Linked DNA regions of Homo sapiens: region 1 is reported to be linked to region 2. Evidence: microRNA targets listed by miRTarBase, many of them from high-throughput screens and not tested one by one. Region 2 holds a microRNA gene; the other region holds the end of a gene's coding sequence.

Region 1 (3,476 bases), not on the chromosome of region 2:
TGCTCAGCCAGGGGCTCCTTTTGGCCCTTCTCCTCTCCAGAGACCTGGTCAGGGGCTCCCCAGCCTGCCGCCTAACACAAGTCCCTTTCCTGGTCCGGACCCTGGCTTTCCTGGCCCTGGTGGTGAGGATGGGGGGAAGCCCTTGAATCCACCTGCTTCTACTGCTTTTCCCCAGGAGCCCCACTCAGGCTCCCCGGCTGCTGCTGTTAATGGGAACCAGCCCAGTTTCCCCCCGAACAGCAGTGGGCGGGGTGGGGGCACTCCAGATGCCAACAGCTTGGCACCCCCTGGCAAGGCAGGTGGGGGCTCCGGGCCCCAGCCTCCCCCAGGCTTGGTGTACCCATGTGGTGCCTGTCGGAGTGAGGTGAACGATGACCAGGATGCCATTCTGTGTGAGGCCTCCTGCCAGAAATGGTTCCACCGTGAGTGCACAGGCATGACTGAGAGCGCCTATGGGCTGCTGACCACTGAAGCTTCTGCCGTCTGGGCCTGCGATCTCTGCCTCAAGACCAAGGAGATCCAGTCTGTCTACATCCGTGAGGGCATGGGGCAGCTGGTGGCTGCTAACGATGGGTGACGCTGGTGAAGTGGCCCAGGGAAGTGCACATGTCTCTCCCTGCTCTTCCAGGGTGATTTTTTTGATGTTTGGCTCTTGGTCCTTGTTTCCACTGGCTTTCCATCCCCATGGGGCAGAAACAGTGGCTCCTGGGAGCAGAAAAGGAATTGAGGTGGGCAGGCAGAAGAGCCTGGATTGCTCACTGTTTTGGGAAACTTACATGTTGAGATCTACAGAGATCCAGGAAACCAAAGCCCTGCTGAGCAGAGCCATTTTGTGGCTATTTCTGGAGGCCCAGGAGTGTGGCTGCAAGAGAAAAGGGGCTGGAGGAAGATCCGGAGGGCAGGGGTGTTCCCTCTGCTGATGATGGATGCCCCTAACACCTGTGCCTAACACCCCTACTGAACCCCACAGCTCCAGCCTTAGTTTTTGGAGTCAAGTGTTAAAGGTTTCTGGCCAGAGGAATTGGGGTCTTGCCATCCCTGCAATAGCCCTTTTATGGGCTCTGGGAGACAGCTTTAGGGAATAAATGGGGATTTTCCCCTTTTTCTACCCACTCCTTTGCTTCCTCCAAGACTTACCCAACTCCTTCCCCCTCAGAGAACCAAATAGCCTGAGGAAGCAGGAGAGTTCCTGGTTATGGCAGTTTCTTGGTGATTTGGGGCTTCAAGACAGTAGGTGAGAGATGCTGTCAGGACGTATCTTCTTCATACCAAAGTCACTGGTCCTTTCTCAGCCTCTCTCGTGCTTTTCTCCTAATGACCATATTTTTGCCAAAAATTGGGATATGTTATCTGACAGACCAGAATATTTGAAGTTTGGGCTGTCCTGAAAGTCTGGACTTTGGTGGTACCCTCCTCCCCCAGCCCATCTGTTGCACATTATACTCCGTGTGTTCTTCAACTTTCGGCGCCCTTATTCCCCTGCCTTCCTGGCTTGATTGAAGGAAAGCTTGAAAAGGCGCAGAGCCCTATACCTCATTTCCTCCATGATAAAAGGATCCAAGTGAGGCCCTGTCACAGCCTGTGGGTAGGGGATGCGGCGGGATCCTCATTGCCATGGTACTCAAAGGTAGAAGAGCCTGGAGTTTGTTGCTTCTCTTTGCTATTCTTTCATATCCTCTTGGGCCTGGTGATTAATTAGCAATTCTCATTCCTCTCAGCCAAAGGCCTGCACTGGGCTTTATTTGTCTTTTTTTATTTTTTAAGCACTGCCTGCCAGAGATGGGCCTGGGGCCTGATGAGGACCTTAGCGCTGCTCGTTCTCCTTTTCTGTTCATGCACACATTCCTCCATGGGGTGGGGAAGGCAGGCATGGGGTGTGGCCCTCGGAGAAGTTAGGAGTCCCCCAGCTCAAGATACAGTGGCAAAGACCTAGTGGTCCCCTACCCCCACTTCTCTCAGTTCCTGGCATGAGGAGAGAAGACCCTGCTCTGGTGGAGCTGACAACCTTTGAGGCTGGGAGGAGAGCAGCCTCTGGGCATCGTTCCCAGTGTCCCTCACACTAAAACGGCGTAGATGGCAACCCCCCACCCCCACCCCGCTGCTCAACTCTTGTGTTTGTTGTTCTGTTTGCCCCATTTATCTGTTGCTGTTTTTGTGTTGTCTTCCCCTGCTCCGCATTTTGTAAAATGGCCCCTGGGGGAGTGTTTTTGCTGGATCTGCTCCCTCTCGCTCTCTCACTCCACTACTTTTTGGAACAAAGTGATGGCAGAATGCGGTGGTGGTGGGGGTCTTTTGTACTGTTGGATTAATAAAATGATTTTAAAATCCCAGACAAGGACTCCTTGCTGTTGCTGTGTGAAAAGGCTGGAATGAGCCGCTGTCACTGCTGGGTAGGGTGCTTAGGGGTTGAGGATATGTATGCTCCCCAGGGTCCCTGGGAGTGGGAATGGCAGATTTGGCCCCTGAGCTGACCCTGGTATAAGCTGCTGAGCCAAGGGAGGCCTGTGTTTCCCCGCCCATCCCCCTGTGTCTCCACTGTGAGAAACTGAGTTTCCTTTTTGAGCATATTCCTGGGCCAGGCCTGGAGCCAGGCGGATTTGGCACCACAGCCTCTGGAAGACAAGTGCTTGAGCTCTTCTGGGTTTAGCACCCCACCCACCTCCCAGTTGTTTGGGTTAGGGAGCAAGTGTCGCTCTAAGGGTGAGGGGAGGGGCTGCTTCTGTCCTAGCAAATTTCATTTTGGGATGTTTTTCAGATCGTTCCCGTCCCCCAACCGTTTTTTAAAGTAGCAATGGCATCTTTTAAGCAGTCTGTTTTGGAGCAGATTGGGGAGAATGGCAGGAGGGCTATTTCCACACCCTGGATTTGCGACCTGTCCCTCTCCCTTCCCCCATCTCACAGCTGTCTCTGTCTATCCTGGGGCCAACCTGGCCCCTTGTCTTCGTCATCTCAGAAGACGGCACCGTCTGCTTTTCTCTCAGTTTGTGGGGGTTCCCTCTAGAAACTGTTTAGACACTGGGAAAGAAGGGCAGGAAACTCAGGATTCGGTTAGCTGGGACCCCGGTCGCCCACCAGGAGGTAAGCCCAGGTTTAGGGCCGTGTCGCTAGACCTCCCTTCCCCTCCCCTGGCTCTCAATTCCTGCTCTTATTGGCCAAAAGTTTCCGCCCCCTTGGGGAAGTTGACTTTTCATTGGTCAGTTTCTGGTCACATGATTTTCTTCTCGGGCTGCAAACAAAGGGAAGCCTGCAACAAGTTAAGCTGAAGACCGAAGCAAGAGCTGGTTCAGGTAATGCCTTAGCTGGGAAGGGGTCCACAGATTCGCTTTGAAGGGGGTGGAATAAGGAAAAGGGAAGGCGGAACTAATCTAGAAGGAATGAGCTGCTTTTCATTTCTGGGCTGGGGGAGGAAGGCCAGGTGCCGACGCTAACACAACAGGAACTTGCTCTGGGTACCCCAGGCAAGTGGCCCTAGATCC
Region 2 (3,000 bases):
AATCCTCCCACTTCAGCCTCCCGAGTAGGTGGGACTACAGGCACACACCACCACGCCCGGCTAATTTTCGTTTTTTTGTTTTTTGTTTTTGTTTTGTTTTGTTTTTTGTAGAGATGGGGTGTGCCATGTTGCCCAGGCTGGTCTGGCACTCCTGGGCTCAAGCAGTCCACCCGCCTCGGCCTCCCAAAGTACTGGGATTACAGGCATCAGCCACTGCGCCTGGCCTTACAACACATTTCTTTTCTTTTTCTTTTCTTTTTTTTTTTTTTTTTGAGACAGAGTTTCGCTCTTGTTGCCCAGGCTGGAGTGCAATGGTGTGATCTCGGCTCACTGCAACCTCTGCCTCCCAGGTTCAAGCAATTCTCCTGCCTCAGCCTCTCGAGTAGCTGGGATTACAGGCGCCCACCACCATGCCTGGCTAATTCTTTGTATTTTTAGTAGAGACAGGGTTTCACCATGTTGTCCAGGCTGGTTTCGAACTCCTGACCTCAAGTGATCTGCCCGCCTTGGCCTCCCAAAGTGCTGGGATTACAGGCATGAGCCATCACACCTGGCCTTATAATGCATTTCATAGCTAATGCAGATGCTATAGCTCCCCTACAATTAATTGTGTTGACAGCAGAAATTTATTTTTGGATTATTTTAGTTTGGTTCGCTCAGGCCATGTTTGCTAGGATAGATAACAGCTAATTGAATGGGGGTACAGTGAAAACCACCTTGAGCTTCATGTCAAAAAACCCGAGTTTGCCTGTGAAACCTGTGAAATGGGAGAAGTGAAAAAATTAAATAAGTAAATAAATAAAATTTGAGTTTGGATCTGTTAGGATATTAATACTTGTGACCTCAGGCAACTCACTTAGCTTCTCTACCCCTCATTTTCTTCATCTACGAAATTAAAGAGTTGGATTATACAGTTTCTAAAATCCCATCTGGTTCTAAATCCTTAGACTCCTTAGACTAAATCGTTAGTGTTTACCAAGCTGTAGAACAAAAGTGGAGGTTTAGAGACAAACCCCAAAGAACAAAAGAACTTGTGTGGGGGTTTGGGGACTAAGACTCCTGGGTCCCAGGCTCAACACTCCACTGACCCATTAGGCAGAACCTTCCCATGCCCAGGTCCAACTGGCCAGTAGCAGGATGATAAGGAAACATTTCAGGGAACATGAGTAGAAATAGAGGAGACCCCTCATTTCAGGGAGCAGCACCTTGACAAGGCAGGAGGATGAGAAGGACCTCTGGAGGGGTCTAAGCTGAGCTGCCCTGAGTCACAGAGATCACAGTGGAGTTTCTCCTGAGACAGGAGTGTCAGCTGAGTGGGAACTGTGTCCCTCATGGGTGGGGTCAGAGGTTACCTTGGCCAGCAGCCGGCGCCCGTCATTATCTAGGATGAAAACAGCCTTGATGGTGTAGAGGGAAGGTTCCTGCAACTGACACCGGAGAGGAGAGTTCCGTTTGGCCCCTGACTCGAGGTGGACACCCTGTGTCTATGGGATCTGCTGGCCCTAGGATACATCCTCAGGCCCCAGCAACCCCAGTCCTCAAGGTCCACAGCTGGTTCTGCCCAGCCCTGTGCCACATGGGCCAACCCAGGTGCCCACTCCACTCCCAGGCAGATGTTCCACTGCAGGCCCCGAGTGGGCGCTGTGCCCGTTGGGTGCAGAAGGTCCTTCCGGGCCCAAGTTCTGTCATGCACTGACTGCTCCAGAGCCCGAGTCGGAGTGTATCACAGAACCTGGGCCGGGGGGGACAGCGGGCCGAGCCTCCTTCTTCCAGCTGATCCCTGGCCGGGCTGGACCTGCGCTATCAGCGCGCCCCCAGGCCCTGGCCCGGGTAGACTCCAGAAGCATGCCCATCACCCACCGGTGATGGGAGCCGAGTCTGGGACGGACAGGCCACTCCTTACCCTCCCCGCGGAATCGCAACTCACCCGCCACCCCCACTCCAAACGGACCCAGAACTTCAGCCCCGCGCCGACGGACTCAGGACAGGCCTCCTCTCCGGTCGGCGCTGGGACGAACTTTTCCTCCCGGGTCCTGGGGCCAGTCAGGGGTGACACAAAGTTCCCAGCCGCCGGGCGCGCGAGTTCTGAGTTGGCTGCTCCCCCTAACCCTGCTCTGTCCCTGCCCAGCTCCCGCCGCCCGGGATCCCCGCGCCCGCCCGCTCCGTACCCGCAGCCCCGAGGGCTCCCCGGCTCGAGCAGGCGGCGCCGGGCCCCCGGCCTGGGCCGCCGCGGCCCCCTCCCCCGGGTGCGGACGTGGCCAGGCCTCGGGCCGCTGCATTCCGCTCGCCGCCTCGCACTGACAGCGCCGCCCGCCGCCTGCCCGCCGCCGCCGCCCCGCCTCCGCGCCGCCCCGCGGCCCCCTCTCGCGCGTGGCCTCCCTTTCCTCGGGGCCCCGTCCTCTTGCTCGTTCTCCCCCATCTCCCCTCCCGCCCTCACCCCACCTCTCCTTCCCCCACTTCTCCTCTCCCTCTCTCCTCCTTGGCTCCTTCCCGAGTCCCTTACATCCCCGAACTCTGCATCCTCAGGGTGCCCCAAGACCAGCCCTCGTCCTGCTTCCTGCCTGCTCTCCGGCCTGTGGCTTTGGTGTGCGCCAGTGTCTATAGGCTGTCCTGGGGCCAGCAGCAAACACAAGCAAAGCCCACTTTTGTCTGTTGACCTCTGGTAGGTACCATGAGGACAAATACGTCAGGTCACCCTTTAGATCTCAGGGACAGGGTCTATAAGCAAGAGCAAATGAGGACAGTTCTGGGGACACCCCTCTGTGAAGAGGCTTTCTCATTCCTCTCTCACTACTTGCAGAAGGCAACCATGGGCCCGGAGACACCTCCCCAGGCTCTCCTAAGTCACAGATATGGCACCATCAGAAGCAAGACAGACGCCCAGCAGCACAAATGCTCCACCAATGACATCGGGCTTTGCAGCATGTTTTGGTTTCTTTGGTCTAAGTCTAACTAAGACAAGCTCTCATTTCAGGGTACACTGGCAAGTGGGAAATTCAC

Evidence for each region. Region 2 holds the annotated microRNA hsa-miR-152-5p (AGGUUCUGUGAUACACUCCGACU, at 1,712-1,734, opposite strand). A microRNA usually pairs through its seed, bases 2 to 8, with sites in the 3' UTR of a target mRNA and lowers its output. Matches are read on the target gene's strand: a 7mer-m8 pairs with bases 2 to 8, a 7mer-A1 pairs with bases 2 to 7 and ends in A, and an 8mer does both.
Region 1: the mRNA of PYGO2 is a reported target of hsa-miR-152-5p. Seed matches in the 3' UTR shown: 7mer-A1 at 1,157-1,163.

The regions. Positions count from the first base shown.
Region 1 is chr1:154,955,880-154,959,355 of GRCh38, reverse strand. It overlaps PYGO2 (pygopus family PHD finger 2), which reads left to right. Exons shown (of 3, transcript NM_138300.4): 3 at 1-2,330. The coding sequence ends at 577. It overlaps PBXIP1 (PBX homeobox interacting protein 1), which reads left to right and starts at 3,257. Exons shown (of 11, transcript NM_020524.4): 1 at 3,257-3,287. RefSeq lists an enhancer at 1-71.
Region 2 is chr17:48,035,499-48,038,498 of GRCh38, forward strand. It overlaps MIR152 (microRNA 152), which reads right to left and starts at 1,749; the gene lies at 1,663-1,749. It overlaps COPZ2 (coat protein complex I subunit zeta 2), which reads right to left and starts at 2,299. Exons shown (of 9, transcript NM_016429.4): 1 at 2,169-2,299; 2 at 1,353-1,427. The coding sequence starts at 2,279.